Homo sapiens: one gene and its partners. The protein of the gene in region 3 purifies or fractionates together with the protein of the main gene of each other region. This does not show direct contact. Each region holds a gene or a part of one and is shown on either strand. Other genes may lie near its edges.

Region 1 (3,654 bases), on a different chromosome or scaffold from region 3:
CAGCAGCAGTGTTATTCATTCAAAGTTGGGTGTTTTAGAAATGAAATCAGAAATCTGTGCTTACTTACCCAGCGAACAAGGACATTCTGTTTTAAAATATAGAATGTACTTATCTCTTTTATTTTACTTTAAGTTCCGGAATTCATGTGCAGAATGTGCAGGTTTGTTACATAGGTATACGTATGCCATGGAGGTTTGCTGCACCTATTGACCCGTCCTGTAAGTTCCCTCCCCTCGTCCCACCTACCCCACAACAGGCCCTGGTGTGTGTTGTTCCCCTCCCTGTGTCCATGTATTCTCATTGTTCAACTCCTGCTTATGAGTGAGAACATGCAGTGTTTGGTTTTCTGTTCCTGTGTTAGTTTGCTGAGGATGATGGCTTCCAGCTTCATCCATGTCCCTGCAAAGGACATGATCTCATACCATTTTATAGCGGCAAAGTATTCCATGGTGTATATGTACATTTTCTTTATCCAAGCATACTTCTAACTTTGCATAGTGAACAAGACTTGACAATTCTAGCCTGAAATCTCTGAGTATATGACATTAGCATATGGAGATTCCATGCTGTGTAGACCAGAGATGGCACACTGGCACTCTGGGGGCTGAATCCCAGATTTAAAAATAGGGAATTTCGGCAGGGCACAGTGGCTCACACCTGTAATCCCAACACTTTGGGAGGCCAAGGGCAGCAGATCACAAGGTCAGGAGTTCGAGATCAGCCTGGCCAACATGGTGAAACCCTGTCTCTACTAAAAATACAAAAATTAACCAGGCGTGGTGGTGTATGCCTGTAATCCCAGTTACTCAGAAGGCTGAGGCAGGAGAATTGCTTGAACCCAGGAGGCGGAGGTTGCAGTGAGCAGAGATCGCACCACTGTACTCCACCCTGGGACAGAGTGAGATTCTGTCTCAAAAAAAAAAAAATCAATAAATAAAAAATAGGGAATTTCCTATATAAATCCCTATTTGGAGCTTCTCTGGAAACACTGAAGGTCTAACCACCTGGGGTCCTTAGCCCTTCACGGTAATAAGAAGTGGAAGAAATGTCCGTACCTCTTCAGGCTGGGCGTGTGCTCTGCAGCTCACCACAGTCCCCATTTTTTGCCTGTTGCCACTTGCCATTTTTTTTTTTTAGCTGTCATTTTTTTGTGTGCCTTCATAGCCACTTGTTTTACTGGATGAAAAATATTTCTCTGTTCCTATGCCTATAACAAAAGTGACAAAGTAAAAGCCTGAAAAAAAAAAAAACCTTATACTTAAAGAAAAATTGGAAGAGAAGAAAAATTGTTCTTTTTTAGAAGAGAAGAGCAATTTCTTACTGTTTGACAAGCACACACCCAGCTTCCTTGAGTCTTTTATTTTCCTCCTCTGCCCTGACAGCATTTAAATTCAGCTTCTGGTACAGATAGTTAACACTGCTTGAGAAGTGAATGGAATGTAGCAGCCTGTCCATTACCTTGAGAATTAGCATGTATTTCTAACTCGCAGTATTTCTAAATTCTGCTTTGACTCCAAGAATTAACTTGGATAAATCATTCACTACAACGAATCTACACTTAGCACCCTCATATATCAAATATGCCCAAAACATGATAATTTTAGTACTTAGTATGTGCATAGTACTATTATAAGTGCTTATGCATATATTAGTACATTTAACCCTCATAATTCTACCAGGCAGGTACTATTACAATTATCCCTATTTTACAGAGAAGGAAACTGAGACACAAGTTACATGTCTAGATTATACGACTAATGTGGCAGAAATGAGACAGGAACCCAGGCTGACTGTACCAAACTTAAGGGAAAGCTTTCAAAAGATCATGAAATCTTTGGAGGATCTGAAAATGACAGGAACAGAAGTAGTACTTTGTATCTCAAAGCCCAAATATGAAAATGAATGATATGGCTATGTTCTAATTGTCTTCATTCTGCAATCAAATATCAGCGAATCCTCTGGAGCCATTGGCAGCACCAACATGCCCACAGTGGAGGCAAAGTGAGGGACTGGTTCCAGTTTCCACTCAGCACTGATCTGCTGTGCCTCGGGGCATCTCTTGGTCCTTGAGTTTACTTTTGGTGGAATTAGGGCATGGGACTTGCTCTAAGGTGGTTTCTTCCTCTAAAGCTGTGTGATTCTGTGACTCTGTATCAGGAATTGAGCTAGCATTTGTCTAAGAAAAAAAAAAGGATAAATGTTTCTGCTTTTTGCATCACATGAACAAAGGTTAGCGGAGAAGACAGTGCCACCGAAGGACCCTGTATGCTACACACCTTTCTTTCAAGAGATGCACAAGTGCCCCAGTGCCTCAGCCAGGCCCCAGTAAACATTAAACATCGATTCCTTCTCTTTCGAGCTCACATGTCACCTCTTCCAAGCCTCCTGCCCCAACCTACACATATAGACCCGAGAATGGTCCTCTCCCTTGATGCCATAGTGCCTTGTCCTCACCTCACTGCCAGCCCCTTCCCCGTGGCAATGACCTGCAGGTGTACCCTCTGCTTCAGCCTCGACACTCTCCAAGACTGCTTCATCTTTGTCTTCTCACTCCACTTGCAGTAGCAAGTCCTCAAAGATTGTTTGAAGGGCCCAAATGTGAGTTTTAGTCTTTGCTATTATTTTCTGTACCACCTTGGCTAAGTACCTCAAAATTCTCAGTGCTTCTATTTTGTCATACACAAAACAAAGATAAACTGTTGGGCCCAACTAAAAGTTCTGAAGTTCTGAAGTGGAAGAACAGTGAATACCACAGAATAGCTGGGGCAGGCAGGCAGCCTGGGCCCTCCCACAACAATGCCAAGATGACTGAGTCTCAGAGGATCACAGAAAGTCCCCCTCCATGCGGTCAGATCAGGCCTTTGGCCTTTGGGTAAGGCTGTACTCAACTACCAAAGAAAGACAGCTTTATCTCTCTTTCAAAGAGTTCCAGCAAACCTTTGAAGTCAATGTTATGATGTTCCTGGCTAGGTGACATTGGGGAAAAGCTTCCTGTGATTTGCCCCAATTCCCTCCCCTCAGCGTCAATCCTCGGTGGAGGCAAAGAACATTTGCTCATGGCCAGCAGCTCACATCAGGTGCCTTGCTCATTCACAGCCTAAAAAATGGAGGCGAGGGGCAGGGAAAATTGTAGTTCATTCTTTATTTTGAAACCTTAATCAATGAATTAATGCCATCATTACACATTTTCTAAGACAGGAGACAAAAAGTTACAGCAAACTTGGGGTTCTCTGGGAGTTGTGGTTTACCAGGCCCACTGACACCATTCAGTTCCTTAGAAGGAGCTTGTCTCCCTTTGCATTAATTATCTTACATTGAAAAGATTCTGTTACTTTCATTTATCCTCCTAGGAAAAGTGGATTATATGCAAAATCATTAGATGACCCTTCTCATGGTAATTCTGAGTTCCATTTTACCTTTACAGGTTTATAATTAGACTTCGTATTCTAGGTTTGAATGTGTCCTAACTTTACAAAAGTCAGTGAATACTGTTAATTTCTTTTAAAAAGGTACTAGAAATAGTATATCCGGGTTTATGTTTTTCTCCTGGACCTAATTCTTCTGCCTCTGTACATTTTAGCAAGCAAACCTTTTAAGCATTTTGCCTCTTGGACTACTGCTTTTTTTCTGCATAAGGAATAGCAGTTACAAAG
Region 2 (3,654 bases), on a different chromosome or scaffold from region 3:
CTGTATGTTGGTCTCTAAAATTTGACTTCCAAAGGGACTTATAAGAATTAATCTTATTGTACATGATTTTGGTCTAAAACCCTAGACCAGTGTTAGGGTCTAACACCCCCAGCCAGTGTTAGTTAACAACCTAACTTTAGAACTTAAAATCCCATGTAAAACACAACAAAACTGCACATGACAATAAATTTAAGCTTTTGAAATATTTGTTTCTAAGTCAATCTTTTACATAAGTTCTTAAATACTGTTACTTGTTAACATTTAAATAACATTAAATCACTACATATATTACATGACATGTCTTTCAAAATATGCACTACAGACTTTCTTTACTAATTTAGTATAGGTTAACTAGCTGTCAACACAATTTATGAGTATGGTATTGACTGCATATCTGAATATATTTTTTTATTATGAAATAAATTACATATATACCTAAAGGTTATTATTTAGATTTTACATTCTTATATACAATCTAATTCTATTGCACTTACTGTATTTCTTAATTTTACCACGCATGGTATAATCAGTATTTCTATAAATTTAAAAATAACTGGGGATAATGTAATTTTATTACATGTGATAAATGTCATGCCCAAGTTGGTACACAAGTTATATTCTCATGGCTCATCCTATATATAGTACACTTCAAATAGTGGATATATAATACTACTTGGTTCAAAGGCAAATGTAAAAACATCAAACTTAGCTAATTTTCTTTATTTCAATTACTAAAACAAAAGGCCATGTGAATCTTTCTATGACACCCCTGGAACCTCCACCCTCAATGCAGCAACTAACTATATCCACCTCCAAAGGAATAGGTGGAACACAACAGAAAGGCCACTCTCCTTGGTCTATCAAGTCCTTCCACACCCTCCATCGGACCATCTGATGCTTGTAGGGGCAATCTGGGGCTGGAAACAGTGAATTAAGACTTACTCATAATTTGTAAGACTGTAAGTTTCATAAATACAAAAAAAACCAAAAAACAGTGTGCTTTCTGGCAAAGAGTAGCTAGAAAATAATCTGCCTCCCCCAAATTCCTGTGACCCACAAGAAGCAGGCCAACTCTAATTGTAGTTTGATAGAAAAAATAAAAAATAACCCAACATATGGAAACGACACAAATTAGCTATGAAAAACTATTCCAAAGTTATATATACCATGTAGGATAAACACATTTAGATAATACGTATCTTTCTTGGTAATACACAAGCAAATACATACATGTCTATCACTGTTACTGCTGAAACACTTCACTGAAATAAATGTCAAAAGGAAGAATGATTACAGAGGAGGACCTGAAGTCACTTACTTGTAAATCTGTACTCATCCTCCCGTCTTCTTATTTCTAACTCTAAGAAAGAGGATGAAAATATTACATATTTGTTTACCTTGGGGGAACAAACAATGAGTATCCCACCTCCTGTCCTCTTTCAAATATATTTAAAGGATTTGTTCATTAACATTTTTCAGCTTTTCATATATGCTATATCTTTTCTATATTAAAACAAAACCATGCATAAAGACCGCTGTCCAGTTGCTAATATTCACATTTGTCAAATATATAATTGATATCTATTGTAAGGGTATAATAACATAAGTCTTTAATAAGAGTTTAAGCCCCTCATGCTATAAATATTATAACCATTTGCTCCTCCAGCACTTAGAATAGCTTAAATATCTATTTATTACCGAGGAAAACAAAAAAGTTTTGCTCCATAACTATCAGTGCTATTTGGACCTTATAAAAATGAAGATTTCAGGCCAGGCGCAAGAGTTCACGCCTATTAATCCCAGCACTTTGGGAGGCTGAGGCAGATGGATTGCTTGGGAGACTGAGGTGGGAGGATCACTGGAGCCTGGGAAGTTGAGGCTGCAGTGAGTCGCAATCCAGCCTGGGTGACAGAGAGAGACCTTGTCTTGAAAAAAAGAAAAAGGTTCCAAGTCATCCGTTAGTTATGACTTATACTTTCTAAAAATAACTGATACCATCACATACCTATTTTGCAGTTATGTGATGTAAGTTCAGCAAGTGAACAAGTGTCTTCATTGAAATAAATTATACATTTAGTTGCTACTAAAGGCAATCAAAGATAATGTAGACTTATAAATTTAAGTACTTAGCAGAACTCCTTCACACTGTACAGTGATAACTAAAAGAATCTAAAATGATGGAATATAGGCCTAAATCAGAAATTGGGGCTGTCTGGCCAACAAAACAAAAAATTAAATATTCATATTTACTCTATGCATAATTGTTTTTAATAAATCATTCTATTAATATACATTATTGTCCATAGTAAATTGAGATTATACAGTATACTGTATAATGACTACAGCCATGTGCCACCCCACCTGGCTAATTTTTGTATTTTTAGTAGAGACGGAGTTTCCCATGCTGGCCAGGCAGGTCTCGAACTCCTGACCTCAAGTGATCCCCCCGCCTCGGCCTCCAAACGTGCTGGGATTACCGGCATAAGCCACCATGCCAGGCCTAAGAAATAATATTTACCTTAACTGTAAGTTAATGTATTCTGTTATTTTCTATTCATATCTATCAAATTTTTAAAAAATGCTGTTGGCAAATGATTTCATAACACACTAATGGGGAATAACCTGCACTTTGAAAAATGCCACACTATATAAAAAACATTTTAAGAAGAAAGTGAGGAGTTACAAATAAAGATTACTTTTAAGCATAGCAATCTCTATTTAGGTCAATTATCAAAAACGCTACCTCTTGGTGTTAATGATGTCTGCTTCTCAACCTCTGCTTGCTGTCTCAGATTAGCTGGGATATTATTATATATTCTCTTATAATGATTGTACACAGCAACTGAAAGCACCTTCTTAGCAAATGACTGGCCAACAACATACTTGTCGAGGTAGTTATAAATCTGAAAAATGATTAGGTATGAATAATTTAATATGAGCTATTATAAGAGCACACACATTAAAAAGTTATTTACTAAGCATATTTGCTTACAGTTTTAAATCTGAACAAAGACTCTCATTAAAAACAAAATGACAATACATTATATAGCAATGATTCAGAGGCCCTGAACACTAAATGAACAAAAACACAATTCATTTGTTCTCTAGCTTAACAAAGTATCACTGTACTCTACTAGTGTTGTGCTAATTTCTATTCTATAAACAATGCTATCAATCTTTATTTTTTGATAACAAATTAAATTTAAAGTAACTTAGAATACATACACATGCCACCATGGTCTAAAAGTATCAACATTAATGTAAATCATTAAAATAAATCCATACCTGTCAATCAAATGAATAACATTCTTCACAAAGATAACATTATAAAACTACTCTTTTCAGAAACAGGCATTACATAATCAAAAGCCATTATACTATCAGTATCTATGTGTTTTAGTAAATTTAATTTTTTCTCAGACATTAACTTTAAAGCTACTCATTTATCTGAGACTCTAAAAACTGTATTCTTATTTTTTTTTATTTTCTAAAAATATATTTTTTTCTTTTTTTGATACAGGGTCTCACTGTGTCGCCAAGGCTGGTCTTGAACTCCTGGGGCTCAAGCAATCTTCCTGCCTTGGCTTCCCAAAGTGCTGGGATTACAGGCATGAGCCACCAAGCTCAGCCCTAAAAACTTTATTCTTAATAGTA
Region 3 (3,554 bases):
GTGTGTCTCCTCGTCCTCTCTGAGGGCCACTTTTAAGGTCACCTGGAAACCCATTAGACTAAAATGGGATGCTCTGAGCCTAGAACCAGCCATGTCTTTGTTTTTCTGCGTGGGTCCAGGGTGCAGCTTGCTCATGGCTGTGTAACATGCTCTACGGTGCCTGAGAACCTGAACGCTCCTGAGCTGGGGAGCTTGGAGGCAGCAGGAAGGTGGCAAAGGGGCCACTGCTTATGATACAGGTGTTATCTGTGAGCTGGGTTTTTAAAAGAACTTTGTATCCAGTTTCTGAGAGCAGAGCCATTCATCCCAGAAGGGTGGCCCACAGGGAGAACCCGGGTCTGCTGGCCGCACTTCACCCGACCAATTGGGTCAGCCACCTCGTTCCATCACCTGATGGGGCCCAAGTCTCCCCAAATTCCACCAGCCTAAGTGTGTGCTCCAGACCTGGACATGATGCAGAGGTGACTTGGGCAGAAGAGTCAACAGGATTCTTAGAGCATCAGAAAAGAAAATTTTAAAGGTTTGCATGTTTATTTATAATTACAATTTACATTACTCCAACAGAGGAGCCCCCTTGCTATGTTCTAATTCTTAGCCATTAAGTCCTACAAAAATAAACCCAAGCTTTTACAGTAACTTAATCAATACAGAACTAAAGCCTTTATAGCTATTAGAGGGGTTTAGTTACCAAGGTGCTTATTTTCGACAAAATGCCCTGTCACTCAGAGGACGCATGCGTATACTAAAGTTCTGACCCATCGACTCATGCAACAAATGTAGACCCCACCCTCCCTCCACCCACTGTTACAACACAAACACAAAACAACGATGTACAACAGAGGGGAAATATGCTCTTGGTCAACTGACCTTGCAGAAAAGACTGGCTTGTTTCCAAGTGGATGAGAACGCCAGTGTGTGGCCAGAGTCCAGCAATGACTGACCGGCCCAGGTCAGAGGCTGGCAGGGACCACAGAAGGGCCAAGGCGCTGCCGGGGCTCATCCCAGGCTCCAACCCCAACCTGGAAGCTTGTGGACACCAGGCTCTGTGCAGCAGCTCCGTGGCTAGCGTCCAGGGCCCCTGGCCACTACTCCCAAATGCTTCTAGTCCACCCACCCCTGGCCAGCCCCAACCTTGACATCACTGTGGATGCCATCAGGGTGGTCTGGTTCACTTATACAACATGATCCATGGGAAAACCCCTTCCGTGCCCTCCACCCACCCACCCCTGCCCCCCACGCCACCCTGTGCTGGCCCTGCCTGACTCCTGAGACCCCACCCTTGGCAGTGGGGTGCCAGGCCAACAGCACCAGGGGCCAGCTGGGTTACAGAGATGTACTTGGCTGCCACCTCTGCCAACAGATTTGGTTCCACTTTTAAAAGTCAAAGCTTGTCATTAAAAAAAAAAAAAAAAGTCACAAAGTAAGGATTCAGCTTTCACTATAGAAACCTTTTTGCAAAATACCAAAACCTTAGAATTAGGCTATGCGCAACTAAAAAGGAAACACAGATAAAGAGACCTCAAAGAGGTTACCCATGAATACTTCCCCAAAACAAGTGGTTCTAACTCAGACCATGTCCAAGTTCAGTTAAGTCCAAAACACAAGTAGCAGTATGGGTCTCTTCCAAACTCCGTAAACAAAGTGACCACCTCTCCCTGTAAGTGCAGCGTTTTCCTCGCGTCCTGACACACACAGCGTCAGTTATGCGCCACTTCAGTAGGAGCCTGCAAGAGATGACAGGAAGTCAAGCATCTGCTGGGATAAGCTAGCACTGTTGCCCCTGCTGGCGAGCAGGAGCCACTCAGCCTCCCTCCTGCCCCCAGAGTCAGACTGGCTACCCCCATTCTTCTCACAACCCACTCTGAGAATCCTACTTGTACAATACACTGGGGACAGGGACGCAGCTAGTGGCAGGAGGGCTAGTCTTTCCAGGGCCCACCTGGCTGTCCCGAGGCGCTGGGTGGGGTTGGCACCAGGCACCCCATGTGGGACGCTCCGCCCAAACCCTAAGGTGCCCACAAATCCACTGGGACCTGGTTAAAAATGAAGCCTCTGATTCACTTAGGGCCGGGTTGGGCCAAGACACTGGCTTTGGAGCAAGGTCTCACTTGCTGGCTTCACCTGGGTGGTGAGCCCCCAGCCCACGCGACTCCCGCACCACCTCACCTCCCATACCTGCAATCTCACTTGGAGGATGCTGGGGCCTGGATCCTACCCCCACAGATGCAGGTTGAAGTTGGCCAAGAGCCTCCCGGGTGACTCATAGGGTCGAGGCCCTCGGTTTGGCTTTGACACCTCTGGGCCTCTCTTCTTCCTGGGAAACCGAGCCTGCTCCCCACCTTCCTAAGCTCTCCAGGTGTGCCTGACCCTACACCCTCCCACCAAAGCGTCCAGAAGGTTCATCCACTCACCTTTGGCTGCACCCTCACACCCTGCCAGTCCCGGCCCTGTGGGAAGTGGGGTTGCGACGGGTGGTCCCATTGCCCCTGCCTCCTCGGAATCCGCCCCGAGAACTGCGGCCACGAAGAAACCTCCCTGACACCCCAAAGGTCTCTGTGTTGAGCTTCCTCTCTTCGGCCCACGTCGTCCGCCTGGAGCTAAACCACAGAGGAAATGCTGATTGTAGCAGGCACTGACTCCCAGGCTTCTGGCCAGGCCTCGTCCTCAGAGCGGCCCAGGGAAGGAGGGACAGACTCACCAGGGCCACTACAGGGAAGGGGCGGCCCCGTCAGCTCTGGAGCCCAGCTCCGGCACTGCAGGTGCTCCCTGCCACGTTTCCAACCAGGACTGTCTCCACAGTGGGCCGGGGATCGGGATCCATCTCTACCATCTCTGGCACCACAGGCAAGCAGTGATACTAGTTGGCTACCAAGGCAGCCGCTGTTGCTCGCTGGGCACAGAGAGGAGCCCTGGGGAGGCCCAGGGGCCCAGGAGACCTGAGACCGGACCATGAAGTGGACCCTCCTAGACAAGGAGGAGGCTAGGATAGATGGAACAAGTTCCCTGGAATGTGATGCTTCTGCTTTGGGAGTTTGAAAGACAGGGATACAGCATGGACACTCATGCCACCCAAACAAGCTGCTGGTGGGAGACTATCTCCCACATCCAACTGTGCACCCAGCACTCCCACCCAGCACTCCTACCGACGCAGACAACAGCTCCAGCAGCACACCCACCCTGAGCTCCTCTTCAGCCGGAAACCTGCTGCTCCCACAGACTTCCGTGTTCAAAGAAACAGCAACTCCACCCATCAGCCGCCCAGGCCAAAAGACTTAGGAGTCATTCTGGACTCTTCTCTTGTCATGTTGGCCAATTCTGTTAGCGCCACCTTCAAGACACATTTAGACTCTACTCCTTCCCTCTGTCACCACCACTGCCTGGTTCCAAGCCACCTGTGCTGCAGCACTGGCCCCTAACTGGCCAGTCAGCAGCCACACTTGCCCACCGTCCAACCACTCTCACCAAGGACGCCGTAAAACATCAGACCGCACCACGCTTCAGCACAAAACCCTCTGATGGCTTCCCGCGGCACTTGGAACAAAAGCCAAAGTCAC

The links.
Region 1: the proteins of LSM14B (region 3) and CILK1 purify together in Homo sapiens (affinity purification with mass spectrometry; 3 studies listed by BioGRID and IntAct, with this or other methods). This does not show direct contact.
Region 2: the proteins of LSM14B (region 3) and CLPX purify together in Homo sapiens (affinity purification with mass spectrometry; one large-scale study listed by BioGRID and IntAct). This does not show direct contact.

The regions. Positions count from the first base shown.
Region 1 is NC_000006.12:53,051,815-53,055,468, forward strand, and holds part of CILK1 (serine/threonine-protein kinase ICK), read right to left. Parts: intron 1-3,654.
Region 2 is NC_000015.10:65,161,286-65,164,939, forward strand, and holds part of CLPX (ATP-dependent clpX-like chaperone, mitochondrial precursor), read right to left. Parts: intron 2,904-3,654; coding exon 2,744-2,903; intron 1,361-2,743; coding exon 1,319-1,360; intron 1-1,318. UniProt on the Homo sapiens protein: ATP-dependent chaperone that functions as an unfoldase.
Region 3 is NC_000020.11:62,132,333-62,135,886, reverse strand, and holds the end of LSM14B (protein LSM14 homolog B), read right to left. Parts: intron 3,532-3,554; exon of another isoform or gene 2,699-3,531; intron 2,598-2,698; coding exon 2,426-2,597; 3' UTR 2,412-2,425; intron 1,725-2,411; 3' UTR 513-1,724; downstream 1-512. UniProt on the Homo sapiens protein: mRNA-binding protein essential for female fertility, oocyte meiotic maturation and the assembly of MARDO (mitochondria-associated ribonucleoprotein domain), a membraneless compartment that stores maternal mRNAs in oocytes.